2 separate regions of the Homo sapiens genome follow, and region 2 is linked to region 1. The links come from fine-mapping of genetic effects on gene expression. Tissue or cell type: whole blood. Region 1 holds a variant in brackets; the other region holds the start of a gene. All regions are shown on one strand. Distances are from middle to middle.

Region 1 (8,118 bases):
AAAAGGCAAAACTATAGAGACAATAAAAAGACCAGCAGTTGTGTGGTTTGTGGGGTGAGGAGTGAAACTATTTTGCATGATAATCTAATGCTGCATACCTGACATTATACCATAGTCAAAACCCACAGAACTATACAACACAGAGACTGAGCTCTGGCTGGGTGTGGTGGCTCACACCTGTAATCCCAGCACTTTGGCCCAGGAGTTTGACAAAGTCAGACCCTGTCTCTATGAAAAAAAATTTTTTTTTAATTAGCTGGGCATGGTGGCACATGCTTGTGGTTTCAGCTACTTGGGAGGCTGAGGAGGGTGAATCGCTTGAGCCCAAGAATTGGAGGCTTCATTGAGCTATGATTGCGCCACTGCACTCCAGCCTGGGCAACAAAGTGATACCCTGTCTCAAAATAATTAATTAATTAAGTATTAAAAAAATTAAAAAATCCAAATGAATAAAAAAAGAGCTTCCACATATTCCTGGGAATTTAGAAGGTGGCATCTCAGGGTGGGCACATGTTTGGAAAGGACCAGAGAAGGCTTCCAAGCTCTCACCTCTGGCTGACCTTCGCTCTGTGCAGGCAGAGAGTGAAGGCGAAGGTAGGGTTGTTAACCGCCTGCCTGAGTGTGGAAGCAGTGCCCCGCTGCAACTACTGGGAGCTTTTTGTTTTTTGTTTTCTGTTTTGTTTTTTTTTTAGCTCCAGGAGTTTAAGAAGATCTCTGTTAAGTCACTAGCTGACCACTAAACTAACAGAACAGACTACTGACCACACCCCACAAAGAACACAATCTTTACAAAAATAGCTTAGAAAAGCCACTAAACAAACAGTTACAACCCACAATAAGCAGAAACAACCAAGCCTGAGGACAGGGAAGAAAGGAAGAATCCCATTCCCAGAGTTACCAGACTGCAATATGCAAAATATCCAGTTTACAGGCTGGGTGCAGTGGCTCACGCCTGTAATCCCAGCATTTTGGGAGGCCGAGGCGGGTGGATCACCTGAGGTCAGGAGTTCAAGACTGGCCTGGCCAACATGGCGAACCCCCGTCCCTACTAAAAATATAAAAATTAGCTGGCTGTGGTGGCAGGCACCTGCAATCCCAGCTACACGGGAGGCTGAGGCAGGAGAATCGCTTGAACTCGGGAGGTGGAGGCTGCAGTGAGCCAAGATCGTGCCACTGCACTCCAGCCTGGGCGACAGAGACTGTCTCCCCAAAAAAAACAAAAACAGGCCAGGCGCGCTGGCTCATGCCTGTAACCCCTGCACTTTGGGAGGTCCGGGAGGGCGGATCACTTGAGGTCAGGAGTTCAAGACCAGCCTGGCCAACATGGTGAAACGCCATCTCTACTAAAAATACAAAAATTAGCTGGGCGTGGTGGTGTGTGCCTGTAATGCCAGCTACTCAGGAAGCTGAGGCAGGAGAATCGCTTGAACCCGGGAGATGGAGTCTGCAGTGAGTTGAGATTGTGCCACTGCACTCCAGCCTGGGTGACAGACTGAGACTCCATTTCAAAAAAAACTAAAAACAAAAAACAAAACAAAAAAAACCAAACAGATAAAATGTCCAGTTTTCGAATCATGGAAGCTTGAGAAAAATGAGAGATCGAGTTTTTCAGCAAAAAATTATGAGTCATGAAAACAAAAAAGCATAGCCCCTTCAGATGGCCATCTGTCTCACACAAATGGAATCAGATGACCTGTGGCCTTCTGTGTCTGGCTTCTTTCACTAAGCACAGTGTTTTCAAGGTTCACCCCCATTGCAGCACGTGTCACTGCTCCATTTCTTTCCAGGGCTAAATAATGTTCCCCTGTCTGGAGAGACCACATTTTGTTTAACCACTCTCCTGTTGATGAACATTTGGGTTACTTCCATTTGGGGGCTATTGTGAATAATTCTGCTCACACCTAGATGTTAAAGAAATGCTTCATGACTCACTGAATAACAAATCTAGTGCATACTTGAATAACGGGAGTTTGGGACTAGATTTCTAGGCCACCAGTTTCTACTTTCTAAGAACTTTTCATGTTGATATGTAATAGAACCTCTGCACCTGCAATGTCTGCATTGCATGTTATATGTCTACCTGCCTGTCTGCGTGTATGCAGCCTATTGAGGCAGCACAAATTTAAAGTCACATACAGGTACGTAATCCCATATACAACTCTGAGACCCAACTGAGTTTCAGAATTTGAGGGGGTTTTAGAAGTGTAAATCAATGCATACCCCGTATTTTAAGTAACTTCCAGTGGGGTTCAAGGCAGTACCTGGTAACCAAATAATTATTTCTGCATCATTGCCTATGACCACTCAGCGTACGTGAAATAAAGGCTGTGAAAAGCAACATGTAGGGTCAGGTTTGGCCACCAGATGATATTCGAGATGCCTCAGGATTCTCAGAGCTTTTTGGGTTTCCAAAAAATCAGGGAGAGGAGTGTGGATCTGTAAGCCAAATTCAAATTTCACCAGTTCCACAGTGTCTGCTACAGTGCTGCTATAAACTGTTTTCACCACTCTATGAGGGGAAAAACCCATCTCCCCCTGCATCTCCCAATAATAAAAACAAGTGAATAAAAATCACATATATATTTTTTGAGACGAAGTCTTGCTGTGTCCCCTAGGCTAGAGTGCAGTGGTGCAATCTCGGCTCACTGCAACCTCTGCCTCCTGGGTTCAAGCAATTCTCTTGTCTCAGCCTCCCAGTACCTGGGATTACAGGCACTCACCACCACGCCTGGCAAATTTTTGTACTTTTAGTAGAGATAGGGTTTCACCACGCTGGTCAGGCTGGTCTCAAACTCCTGACCTCAGGTGATCCACCCGCCTCGGCCTCCCAAAGTGCTGGGATTACAGGCATAAGCCCCCGCGCCTGGCCTAAAAATCGTATTTATTAAGCACTTTCTCCACATCGGGTATCATACCAAGTGCTTTATATGCATTAACTTACTTCTCACAAAAACCTAGATTGTAGTATTACTTCCCTTTTACAAATAAGAGAGACTAATTTGTCCAAAGTCAAAACCCAACAGCCAGATCTTAAACCCAGATACTCTGACATTAGCGCTAATGGTCTTGCCCATTACACAGTACTGATTCCCTATAAACTGAACTGTATACTGCACTGCTCCAATTAAACTACAAAACACATAAGGTGCTGGGTCAGGGGGAAGAATGTCTCTGGACTCCCCAAGGCCAAATCACCTGCTTTCCAATATACTCCCATAGTCCACAGAACAAACTGGTCAGGTTACAACCTCAGACAGGCAAGCCAAAAGTCCAAAGGCCATGCCTTGATATTTACATCCTTCTCCAGACAGTAAAGCAAAACCCTCTCTACCGATACTGAGCTTCCTTTTATTCTGTCAACAAATACATTCAATTCAACAAGAGTTTTAGCACCTTCTAGGTACAAAACTCTCTGCTAGCCCTTACGAGGCAGAGTTTATGGTCTCCTGCAACCCGGCAGACATTCCCAAGGACCCAAATACTCTTTCCAAGAATTTTATCATTTTGTGTTTTCATTTAAATGCTCAACATCACTAACGATCAGGGAAATGCAAATCAGAACCACAATGGGATACCACCTTACTCCTGCAAGAATGGCCGTAATCAAAAAATAAAAAAATAACAGATGTTGGCATGGATGCGGTGAACAAGAAACCTTTCTACACTGCTGGTGGGAATGTAAACTAGTACAGCCACTATAGAAAACAGTGTGGACATTCCTTAAAGAACAAAAAGTGGAACTACCATTTGATCCAGCAATCTCACTCCTGGGTATCTACCCAGAGGAAAAGAAGTCATTATA[A/C]GAAAAAGATACTTGCACATGCATGTTTAGAGCAGCATAATTTGCAATTCCAAAAATACGGAACCAGCCCAAATGCCCACCATCAATCAAGGAGTGGATAAAGAAATATATATATGATGGAATACTACTCAGCCATAAAAAGGAACGAAATAATGGCATTCACAGCAACCTGGATTGAACTGGAGACTATTATTCTTCTAAGTGAAGTAACTCAGGAATGGAAAATCAAACATCGTATGTTCTCACTTTGTAAGTGAGAGCTAAGCTATGAGGATTAAAGGCATAAGAATGATACAATGGACTTTGGGGACTTGGGGGGAAAGGGTGGGAGGGGATGAGGGATAAAAGACTACAAATTGGGTTCAATGTATACTGCTTGGGTGATGGGTACACTAAAATCTTACAAATCACCACTAAAGAACTTACTCATATAACCGAGTACCACCTGTTCCCCCAAAATCTATGGAAATAAAAAACTAAAAAAAGAAAAAAGAAAAGAAAAACCCAGTACATCTGGATCATTAGAGGACTCCCTTGTAACCGAGTACTACCATGTGGTTTCAATGCCTGGGTGTGTTTATGATTGCACTCATGCCAAAAAGGACTACTTAATTGCTTCAGGCTAAAAAGAAGAGGATGGAGGGGGATTTAGTTCATAATAATGCCTTCGGGCTCTACTAGAGGCCAGCTGGCATCACGGTACAAATGGAAGTTTTGCTGCAGTTCAAATTGAGACAAGGGATGGGAGAATTGAGACCTCACAGGGCCTGCTAAACCCAAAAGGGCCCAGAGTGGCAGTCGGCAAAGTAATTGTTTCAAGGAGCAGGTAAGTTTCAGGAAATGGTATCCCTCTCATTAAATTAAATCGGTTTGGTTGCTTTGTTTATATTTAATTTGCAAATTGATTTTGGCTTTATAGCTGCACAGGAGCTATACACTTTAGGAACTTATGTCTTGTTCTATCATCACTGATGCCTTAATAGTTTTAAAACAATTTAAGTCAACATTGGGGATCCGAAGCAATTTTAATTTTTTTTCTTTTAAAAAAATGCTATCAGCCCAGCGCAGTGGCTCACGTCTGTAATCCCAGCATTTTGGGAAGCTGAGGTGTGCGGATCACTTGAGGTCAGGAGTTCGAGACCAGACTGGCCAACATGGCGAAACCCCGTCTCTACTAAAAATACAAAAATTAGCCGCGCATGGTGGTGGGTGCCTGTAACCCCAGCTACTCAGGAGGCTGAGGCCCAAGAATCTCTTGGACCCGGGAGGCGGAGGTTGCAGTGAGCCAAGATTGTGCCACTGCACTCCAGCCTGGGTGACAGAGTGAGACTCCATCTCAAAAAAAAATAAAATAAAATTTAAAGGGGCCATCATTCCATGACTGGTGGGGGTGAGGGGAAACAAAGGATTCTTCTATGAAATGCTACGACCTTTTGGGAAGGTAACCTACCATGAGATTCTAGACTGTAGAAGTAAGTCCACAATAGATAAATAATATTTACTATGTGTGTTGTTTGGAGGGGAGGGAACAATCTGAATGCCCATCTGATTTACAAATATATTTTATTTAGTCTGCAATATATTTAAATATGTTTCCATTAGTTATCCAGTTAAAGAATAGATGGGGCCAGGTATGGTGGCTCACACCTATAATCCCACCACTTTGGACAGCTGAGGCAGGCAGATCACCTGAGGTCAGGAGTTCAAGACCAGCCTGACCAATATAGTGAAACCCCATCTCTACCAAAACTACAAAAATTAGCTCGGCATAGTGGCACTCACCTGTAGTACCAGCTACTCAGGAGGCTGAGGCAGGAGAATTGCTTGAACTTGGGAGGCGGAGGTTGCAGTGAGCCAAGATCATGCCACTGCACTCCATCCTGGTGACAAAGCCAGACTCCATCTCAAAAATAAATAAATAAATAAAATAAGGCCAGGTGCGGTGGCTCACACCTGTAATCCCAGCACTTTGGGAGGCTGAGGCGGGCGGATCACAAGGTCAGGAGATTGAGACCATCCTGGCTAACATGGTGAAACCCCGTCTTTACTAAAAATACAAAAAATTAGCCAGGCGTGGTGGCGGGTGCCTGTAGTCCCAGCTACTCGGGAGGCTGAGGCAGGAGAATGGCATGAACCCGGGAGGCGGAGCTTGCAGTGAGCCAAGATCAGGCCGCTGCACTCCAGCCTGGGCCACAGAGCGAGACTCCATCTCAAAAATAAATAAATAAATAAATAAAATAAAATAAATAATAGAAAAATAGATGGATAGAGCACTAGAGCATCACTATCCAAAAGCACTTTCTGTGCTACTAAGCCTGCACTGCCCAATACTGCAGTCTTTAGCCACATACACAGAAATGCAGCTAACACCCTTGAGGAACTAAACTCTTTATTTTATTTAAGTTTAGTTAAATTTATTTATTTATTTATTTATTTAGAGACAGAGTCTCACTGTGTCACCCAGGCTGGAGTGTAGTGGTGCAATCTCAGTTCACTGCAACCTCCACCTCCTGGGCTCAAGTGATTCTCCTGCCTCAGCCTCCTGAGTAGCTGGGGATTACAGGCGCCCGCCATCATGCCCAGCTAATTTTTGTATTTTTAGTAGAGATGGGGTTTCACCATGTTGGCTAAGCTGGGTCTCGAACTCCTTACCTCAAATGATCCGCCCTCCTCGGCTTCCCAAAGCGCTGGGATTACAGGCGTGCGCCACCGCGCCTGGCCAGTTAAATTTAAACAGGTACAAGCGGCTAATGGCTACCATATCAGATGGTGCAAATCTAGGGATTTCTCATTCAAGTTAGGCTTTCCAACTTCTATTTAAAAATGTGAAAGAAAAAATCAGAAGATCTGCCAATGCTGAGTCCACATTCCTGCAAGGCAACAATTGGTTGGAGGTGAGAAGCCCCCACCACTCCCTATTCTCTCAGCTCACTGATTTCTGTGCCCTGCCAGGCCTCTGGAGGCATCTGAGTTTATGACCCTCCAAATGAAACCCTCCAAACTCAGGCTTAAATGTCACCTCCACTATAGAGAACACTTCCAACATAACAAAGTCTGAGATTAATTTCTCCCTCCTCTGAACCCTGACAAGCACTTGTGTAACAATCCACTTAACATTTACTCTAAATTATCTAGGAAGTTAATTATCTTTAAAGTTCTCCCATTTTCTCCAGACTCTCAGCTCTAGGATGGCTGGGACTCGGCCTTAGGTGTCTAAACTTCTCACAGTATCTTGCCTAGCACAGAACTTTGATCACAGAAGGCTCTGAGCATCCTTTTCATTCATGAGTGACAGAATTCCATTGTGCCACCTCTTTTCCTCTTTGAAAAGCTCCAACCACTGTTCTGCCACCACACCCCCCACCTCCTAAGCACCACCTTCTCCCTTCTCTCCCTGCATCCATGTTACCAGGGAAAGGGTCATCAAGTCTGAGTAACAGCAGGTTCCTGGGAGTTGAGCAGACAGACTTGCAGCTTTCACCCTAGCTATGCAATTTCCTTCATTTTATTTTATTTTATTTTTTGAGACAGGGTCTTACTCTGTCGCCCAGACTGGAGTGCAGTGGCGTGATCTCGGCTCACTGAACCTCCACCTCGCGGATTCAAGCGATTCTCCCATCTCAGCCACCCGAGTAGCTGGGTTTACAAGCATGTGCCACCACACCTGGCTAATTTTTGTATTTTTAATAGAGACAGGGTTTTGCCATGTTGGCCAGGCTGGCCTCGACCTCCTGCCGTCAAGCAATCCACCTGCCTCAGCCTCCCAAAGTGCTGGTATTACAGGTGCAAGCCACTGCACCCGGCCTGCAATTTCCTTCCTTACTTTCCTACTCCAATTTTTTTTGTTTTCCTGAGTTGAAGTCTCTCTCTGTCACTCAGGCTGGAGTGCAATGGCGTGGCCTTGGCTCATTGCAACCTCCGCCTCCTGGGTTCAAGTGATTTTCCTCCTCAACCTTCCGAGTAGCTGGGACTACAGGTGCACACCACCACACTGGGCTAATTTTTGTATTTTTAGTAGAGACGAGGTTTCACTATGTTGGCCAGGCTGGTCTCAAACTCCTGACCTCGTGATCCACCCACCTCGGCCTCTCAAAATGCTAGGATTACAGGCGTGAGCCACTGTGCCCAGCCTCCACTCCAAATATTATTGTAAACTATAGACCCATTTTGTTTGGCCTACACAGTATTTTTACAAATTGGATTAGTCATCAACATTTTTTTTTAATGGGGAGATTTCACCTTCCTATATGGATTTCTGGTTTCTTTTGAAAATGATTAGATTTGATATTCCTTCACAGTTAACAACGAGGTAGATC
Region 2 (6,559 bases), 80 kb before region 1:
AGAATGGAACCCACACACTTTGGGGTTCTAGCACCTTGGTATTCTAGATGCTCTATGTTCTATCTCCTCGAAAGATGAGAATGTCAGGACTTTATCATTACAGAACCTCAGAAGATTCTGGCTTCTATCGTACTGTAGAATATTCAAATGTTGGAATCTTAGAGCCTACGACTCTAGAAAACTTAGCATCTCTGATCTTGGAATGTCAGACTCTAGAACATTAGAATCTGGGAATTCTAGATGTGCAGAATTCCCAGAATTCACAGGTGCTCCATCAACTCTCTCAGATTATCTAGTTCAGGAATGGCAGTGTGGTGGCCCCTTGGCCATCCGGTCCATGGCCACCTTAAAAGCATGATGCTCCGGCCAGGCGTGGTGGCTCACGCCTGTAATCCCAGCACTTTGGGAGGCCAAGGCGGGCGGATCACCTGAGGTCAGGAGTTCGAGACTAGCCTGGCCAACATGGCAAAAACCTATCTATACTAAAAATACAAAAATTAGCCGGGCATGGTGGTGTGAGCCTGTAATCCTAGCTACTCAGGAGGCTGAGGCAGTAGAATCACTTGAACCAGGGAGGTAGAGGTTGCAGAGATCGAGCCACTGCACTCCAGCCTGGCAACAGAGCGAGCATCTATCTCAAAAAAAAAAAAAAAGAAAGAAAAAAAAAGTGCAATGCTTTAAAAAACAAATGTAGAATCTGATTGTCTATGGACAAGTTCGTGGTCTCCAGTTAGCTACAGCTTTCCAACCTCAGCTGCATATGTGTGTGTGCACATGTGCTCCCTGTTATATTACATTTGTGCTTTCCATTCTCACATGACCTCTCTGGTCCCCAAAGGCATTTTAGTTTAATTTCATTTTATTTTATTTATTTATTTTTGAGACAGAGTTTCGCTCTTGTCACCCAGGTTGGAGTGCTGTGGTGCAATCTTGGCTCACTGCAACCTCCGCCTCCCGGGTTCAAGTGATTCTCCTGCCTCAGCCTCCTGAGTAGGCTGGGATTACAGGCACACACCACCATGCCCAGCTAATTTTTGTATTTTTAGTAGAGACGGGGTTTCGCCATGTTGGCCAGGCTGGTCTCAAACTCCTGACCTCAGGTGATCCGTCTGCCTCAGCCTCTCAAAGTGCTGGGATTACAGGTGTGAGCCACCGTGCCCGGCTGGCATTTTAGTTTTCAATCCCTAATCTAGTACAACCTCTTTATTTTCCAGAAGGGGAAACAGACTACAGGGGTCTGTAAGTAAAGAAGGGGTTCGAGAAGCCAGGGTTTCTACATTTACAGTGGAGTGGGCGTCGATGCGCAGGGGACACTCACTCCGCATGGCACAGCTGGAACGGAGTGAACTGGAGCTCCAGGTTCAGGCAGCTCTCTGTAGGCAGGGCACAGGCAGGTTAGCATGGGGGACCTGCTGGGGACTCTCTCCCTCCTCCCGTCCACGCCTCACTCACGGGCAATAGAGTCAAGGTTGTACTCAGAGCCGGGCTCGTAGTCGCAGTAAATGTTCAGGAAGGGGCTGCCCTTGTCCCCTGAATCCTGGCGGAGGACACGGGGTTCAGGGGAGGGCAGGGGTGGCAGGAGGGATCCGGGGCGGCTCAGTGGAACTCACCATGTGTGTAAGGAGGAGGGCGAAGGGAGGTGGAGGGGGCTCTAGGTACCTTGATGAACGTGATCCCCACAACCAGACCCCGCTTGGGGGGTGACTTGTTGAAAGTGTCGATGGAGACAATCTCCGCATCCACTGGGAGGGGAGAGTTCTAAGTTCAGTGTCAGGCAGACTCATGCTTCCAATCTCCCCAACATGGTGAGCTCTGGCTACCGCAATGATCATGCCCTCTGGTCTGAGTCCTGACCACCATCACCTGATCTCTGTTCCCTGGGTACTAGGGATCCTGACCTGTAAGTCTGAAGAATCCTGAAACCCTAGGCTCATCCGGGCCCCAACTATGCCTGCCCGCTGATCCCAGTGACCCCCTTAAAACCACCTGATCCCATTCTTCCAGCACGGTGACCCGGCTCAGACAGAGCCTCAGAAGCCTTCTCAACACCACGTTCCAGGCCCCCGCCCCCCAGCACCATAGCGCCACCCACCGGGAATGTAGTTGAACTGCAGCTCCTTGGCCACTGGCCGGATTTTCTGTCGGAGGTCTTGGTAGCGGAAGCCGAGCACCTTGCCTTTAAGGGTGGCGGCCAGCAGCTCCCCGCGCCCGCCGGCGCCGCCTGCCAGCCCGTACACATTGCTCTGCGACGAGAAGCGCGTGAAGCTGTCCTCGCGCAACGGACAAGGCCCCGCGGCCACGGCCGCCTCCCCCATCATGCCCCTCAGTTAAGCACCCTCTCCGCAGCCCCCGCCCCAACCCGCACTACCCAACCTACGACTCTCTAAGCGACCTGAACCGCCGGGTGCCCGGCCGTTGCGCGGGCTGATGACGTACGGAAGCTGCCGGCGTTGCCCTCTCCCAAGATGGCGGCCAGGTCGCCTGCTCGGGCCTCCCAGGCGACTTTGCCCCACTGCGCCCGCGCTCTCTTCTCCTTTCCATTTCTGGACCAAGGGGCTGCCATAAGGAGTCTGTGACTAGAGATGGGAGGTGGTGGCCACGGCCTCTCGCTGTATGCTGTGTGGAAGGTCGAATCATCATCATCATAAAACTTAATATTGCCCTTATGTGCCAGGAACTACTGTAAGTGCATTCCATCTAATACTTTATTAAAAATTCGCAAGGGGGTGGAGGTAGGTACTTAAATCCATTTTAGAGATGAAGGAATTGAGGCACAGAGGGGTAAAGTAACTTGCCTAAGATCACACAGCTAGTAACGAGCGGTCAGTACTGGAAACCAAACAAGGTAACTCCACAGTTCACTATTTTTTTTTTTTTTTTTTTTGAGACGGAGTCTTGCTCTGTCACCCTGGAGTGCAGTGGTGCGATCTCGGCTCACTGCAACCTCTGCCTCCTGGGTTCAAGCGATTCTCCTGCCTCAGCCTCCCAGCAGCTGGGATTACAGGCGCCACCACACCTGGCTAGTTTTTCTATTTTTAGTAGAGATGGGGTTTCGCCATGTTGCCCAGGCTGGTCTGGACCTCCTGACCTCAGGTGATCCGCCCACCTCGGCCTCCCAAAGTGCTAGGATTATAGGCGTGAGCCCCCTTGCCCGGCCTATAGTTCATAATCTTAACAGTATCACCTTTAAAATAATTAATACATTCTTCTTGCCCCCAAGGAAAAATGATCCAGCTATAATAACCACCTCCTTTATCGAACACCTACTTGGTGACAGTCATGCTGGCTCTGATAATCTGATTCCTTACAACTGTTCTGCAAGGGCCTACTGTTACCCTCCCTGCCGGTTCACTTATTCAGGATTCATTGAGCTTTTACTATGTGCCCGGACGTCCTTTGCAAATCTGTCTCACTAATCTTTGCAAGAAAGAAACCTCTACAAAGAGGTTTATTATCCCAGTTTAGAGAGAATCAAATGGAGGCTCAGAAAGAGTAAGTCCACTGACTGATATGCTAGCAAGTGGTGGGGACAGGATGTAAACCAGGTGTTTCCGACTCTGGGGCCTTCAGGGGTTCCTGTCTGTGCTGCTTTGTCCCTAGAAGGCCATGGAGGTTTGGGTACTATGTGCACATCTGTGTATCATTTCCAGAAGACATGGGTTGGCCAGCTGTCCTGGACACCTCGAGCACACACAGACTGCAAGCTCCATGAAGGCAGCAGGCTGATCTCCCTTGATCACGGCCTTATCGCCTGTACCTGGAACACAAGGCCTGACACAAAGCAGGCATTCAGAAAATATGTGTCAAAAATCACAAACTATGTGCTGAGCATGTAAGAGACAGCTCTTACATGATGGAAAGTTCTCAAAGGCAGACTGGATAACGGAGGTGGCAAGGAATTTGTGATGATTCCAGATTTCTGGATGTGGAGAGTAGAAGTTCCTGGAGGGCAGTCTGGGAATGCCGTCAGTGCTGCTGTATTCCCAGGGCCTGGCATGCAGCAGGTGCTTAGTGAATATTCGCTGAGGGAGTGGCACGTGGGTCTAGTGCCACTTCAGCAGTGCGTTTCCTTCAGGCGTCTTCCCGCCCTAGTAACCTATAAGCCACATGTTGAGCGGATGAATGAAAAAATGAAGTTACAGGTTAGGAAGGAATCATCCTGTTAAGAGGTTTCCAATCCTAGCTGCACACTTGAACTGCCTATGAAGTTTTAACAAAACAAACCAAAACAGGCCGGGCCTGGTGGCTCATGCCTGTAATTCCAGAACTTTGGAAGCTGAGGCAGGCGGATCAACTGAGGTCAGGAGTTTGAGACCAGCCTGGCCAACATGGTGAAACGCTGTCTCTGCTAAAAATACAAAAATTAGCTGGGCGTGGTGGCGCACGCTTGTAATCCCAGCTACTCGGGAGACTGAGGCAGGAGAATCGCTTGAACCCGGGAGGCAGAGGTTGCAGTGAACCAAGATCGCACCACTGCACTCCAGCCTGGGCGATAGAGCGAGACTCTGTCTCAAAAAAAAAACAAACCCAAAAACCCCCAAAGGGTAGGAAACCTCAGTCAAACCACAATTTATCAGAGTGCGGCCCCAGTCTGGATACTTTTATTTTTGCACCATCATGCCTAATTTTTGTATTTCTAGCAGAGACAGGGTTTTGCCATGTTGGCTAGGCTGCTCTCGAACTCTTGACCTCAAGTGATCCGCCTGCCTCGGCCTCCCAAAGTGCTACGATTACAGGCATGAGCCACAGCACCCAGCCCCAAGTCTGGATACTTTTAATGACTTTAAAGCATAGCCAGGGCGGACCATCACTGATTTAGGTCATGGATGACAGAAACAGATTCTCACACTATCCTTCAGCCAGCACCCATGATGGGGGCAGACATGGTAATCAATTTCAGGTCTCAGAAGTCTTTGCTGCCATTATCAGTGGACTGGAGCTGTGGGAGAAGCTGCAGGGGAGAGAGGAGCAGGGCAGGTGTCAAGGAATTTGAACCTCACCTGCACTTCTCTAGGCTTTCTGGGCTGGAGCCCCTCTCCCAGGAGTCCACCCTGGTTTCCTAGGCAGCCCCTCCTCTGTGCAATTACTGCCCCTGCTCACTTCCTGACATTTTCCCATCATGCCTGGGCACTGAGCCTCCTTCAGCTGTCTCCTCTGTAGCGAGGGGCCCTGCGCGGGGCAGGGTAAAGCACATGTGTACCAGACAGGGCCCCCAACATGCACATTGTGGAGTGTGGTGGAGGCAGCTGGTTTCTGCCCACCTTTCCTGGGCAAAGGCTCCTGCTATCTCCTCCCCCACTCCCCAGACCCACTCGGGCCTCAGACTCTGCCCACCAAAGCCGCTTCCTCCCCCGTCCTGTGACAGATGGAACAACTGTCACCGGGGCGTTCAGCCTTCCTGCCAGAGAAATGTGGACATGGGAGATTCGGTGGGCTTCCACCCATTCTCATCCAAAGCAGTCATGAGGACCGTCACATTCGACCCTCCCACTGGCTCTGAGGGGTGGCATCACCACCGTGCATCCCAGTTGAGGAAATCAAGGCCCCTGGACCCCAAGAACCCAGAGAAAGATCAAGATGGGCGCTCTGGGACTCCCAAGCCAGAGCTCCTCCCCAGGCCCACCGTCCCTGGGTCTCCCCCACCTAGAAACTGACCCAGCCCACACGTGTTTCAAGGATGCATGCGCCTGACCTCCCAAGAGCTCGCCCAGAGTCTGGGGGACCAGGAGTGTGAGAGGGACTGGTGACTGGCCCAGGGGCAGAGTGGGTAGCAGAGGTGAGGAGGAAGAGAGACTCATGCAAAAGTGTTGTTTTTTATTTTCTTTCTTGGGCCAGCTGCAGCTTCCAACCAAGAAAACCTCAAAGCATTAGGGAAGGAGCAGGTGTGGGGCTGGGGTGGGGAGAATCCCCTAAGCTCCAGGGCCCAGGGTCTAACCTGAGAGGTCGGGGCTGCAGGAAGCTGGGGGAGGCTCCCGGGGCTGGGGGAAGAGGAGCCTGCCCCCAGCAGAAACAGCAGGTCTCAGCGGCTACATGTGCTTTAGAGCTTGGCTGGGGGACAAAAGTGGGAGAGAGAGAGAAACCGGCCTCATGACTCAGCTGGTCAGGAGATAGGGGGCCAGATGCTGACCCCAAATCCCCGGCAGCACCCCTAGCAAATAGGTCTGTATCAAAGATTCTGTACAGCTGGTTTTGGGGGTGAAGGGCACCTATGGGGGCTTAAATAAATGGACAGGGGGCAAGGGATGTAGCGAGAACAGAGGGTGACTGTCCGGCCAGCAGCCTGGGCCTCTGGCGCCCCTGCATGCTGACCCCCGGTGCCACCTGCCCACTGTGGCCCGCGGCACTCCCCAGATGGGAAAGGAGGGAAGCTCTCCAGCAAGTCTCGGCCCCACCTCTCTCTGAGCAGATGGGACAGGAAGACGGGCACTGGGGGGCTGGGTGGGGCTTAGCGCAGGTCCTCCTCATCGCCCTGGATGGTCTTCTTGATGCGCAGCAGCATGGTGGTGAGCCACTGGTCCAGCCGGGAGATGGAGTCGTATTCCTTCACCTGAGGGCACAC

The links. PIP is the estimated chance that this variant, and not a neighbour inherited with it, causes the effect.
Region 2: NAPA-AS1 starts here. The variant in region 1 is fine-mapped to the expression of NAPA-AS1 in whole blood (TOPMed, PIP above 0.99).

Annotation. Positions count from the first base shown.
Region 1 is chr19:47,561,037-47,569,154 of GRCh38, forward strand. All of the region lies in intron 2 of ZNF541 (zinc finger protein 541), which reads right to left. Among named protein-coding and RNA genes, the nearest start is that of ZNF541, 8.1 kb to the right of the region's middle. The variant A/C (reference allele first, on the strand shown) is at 3,803.
Region 2 is chr19:47,481,843-47,488,401 of GRCh38, forward strand. It overlaps NAPA-AS1 (NAPA antisense RNA 1), which reads left to right and starts at 2,440. Exons shown (of 4, transcript NR_038452.1): 1 at 2,440-2,682. It overlaps KPTN (kaptin, actin binding protein), which reads right to left and starts at 2,377. Exons shown (of 12, transcript NM_007059.4): 1 at 2,093-2,377; 2 at 1,660-1,742; 3 at 1,453-1,537; 4 at 1,319-1,373. The coding sequence starts at 2,318. NAPA (NSF attachment protein alpha) reads right to left here. Exons shown (of 11, transcript NM_003827.4): 11 at 5,795-6,547. The coding sequence ends at 6,446. RefSeq lists enhancers at 2,302-2,591, 2,622-2,751.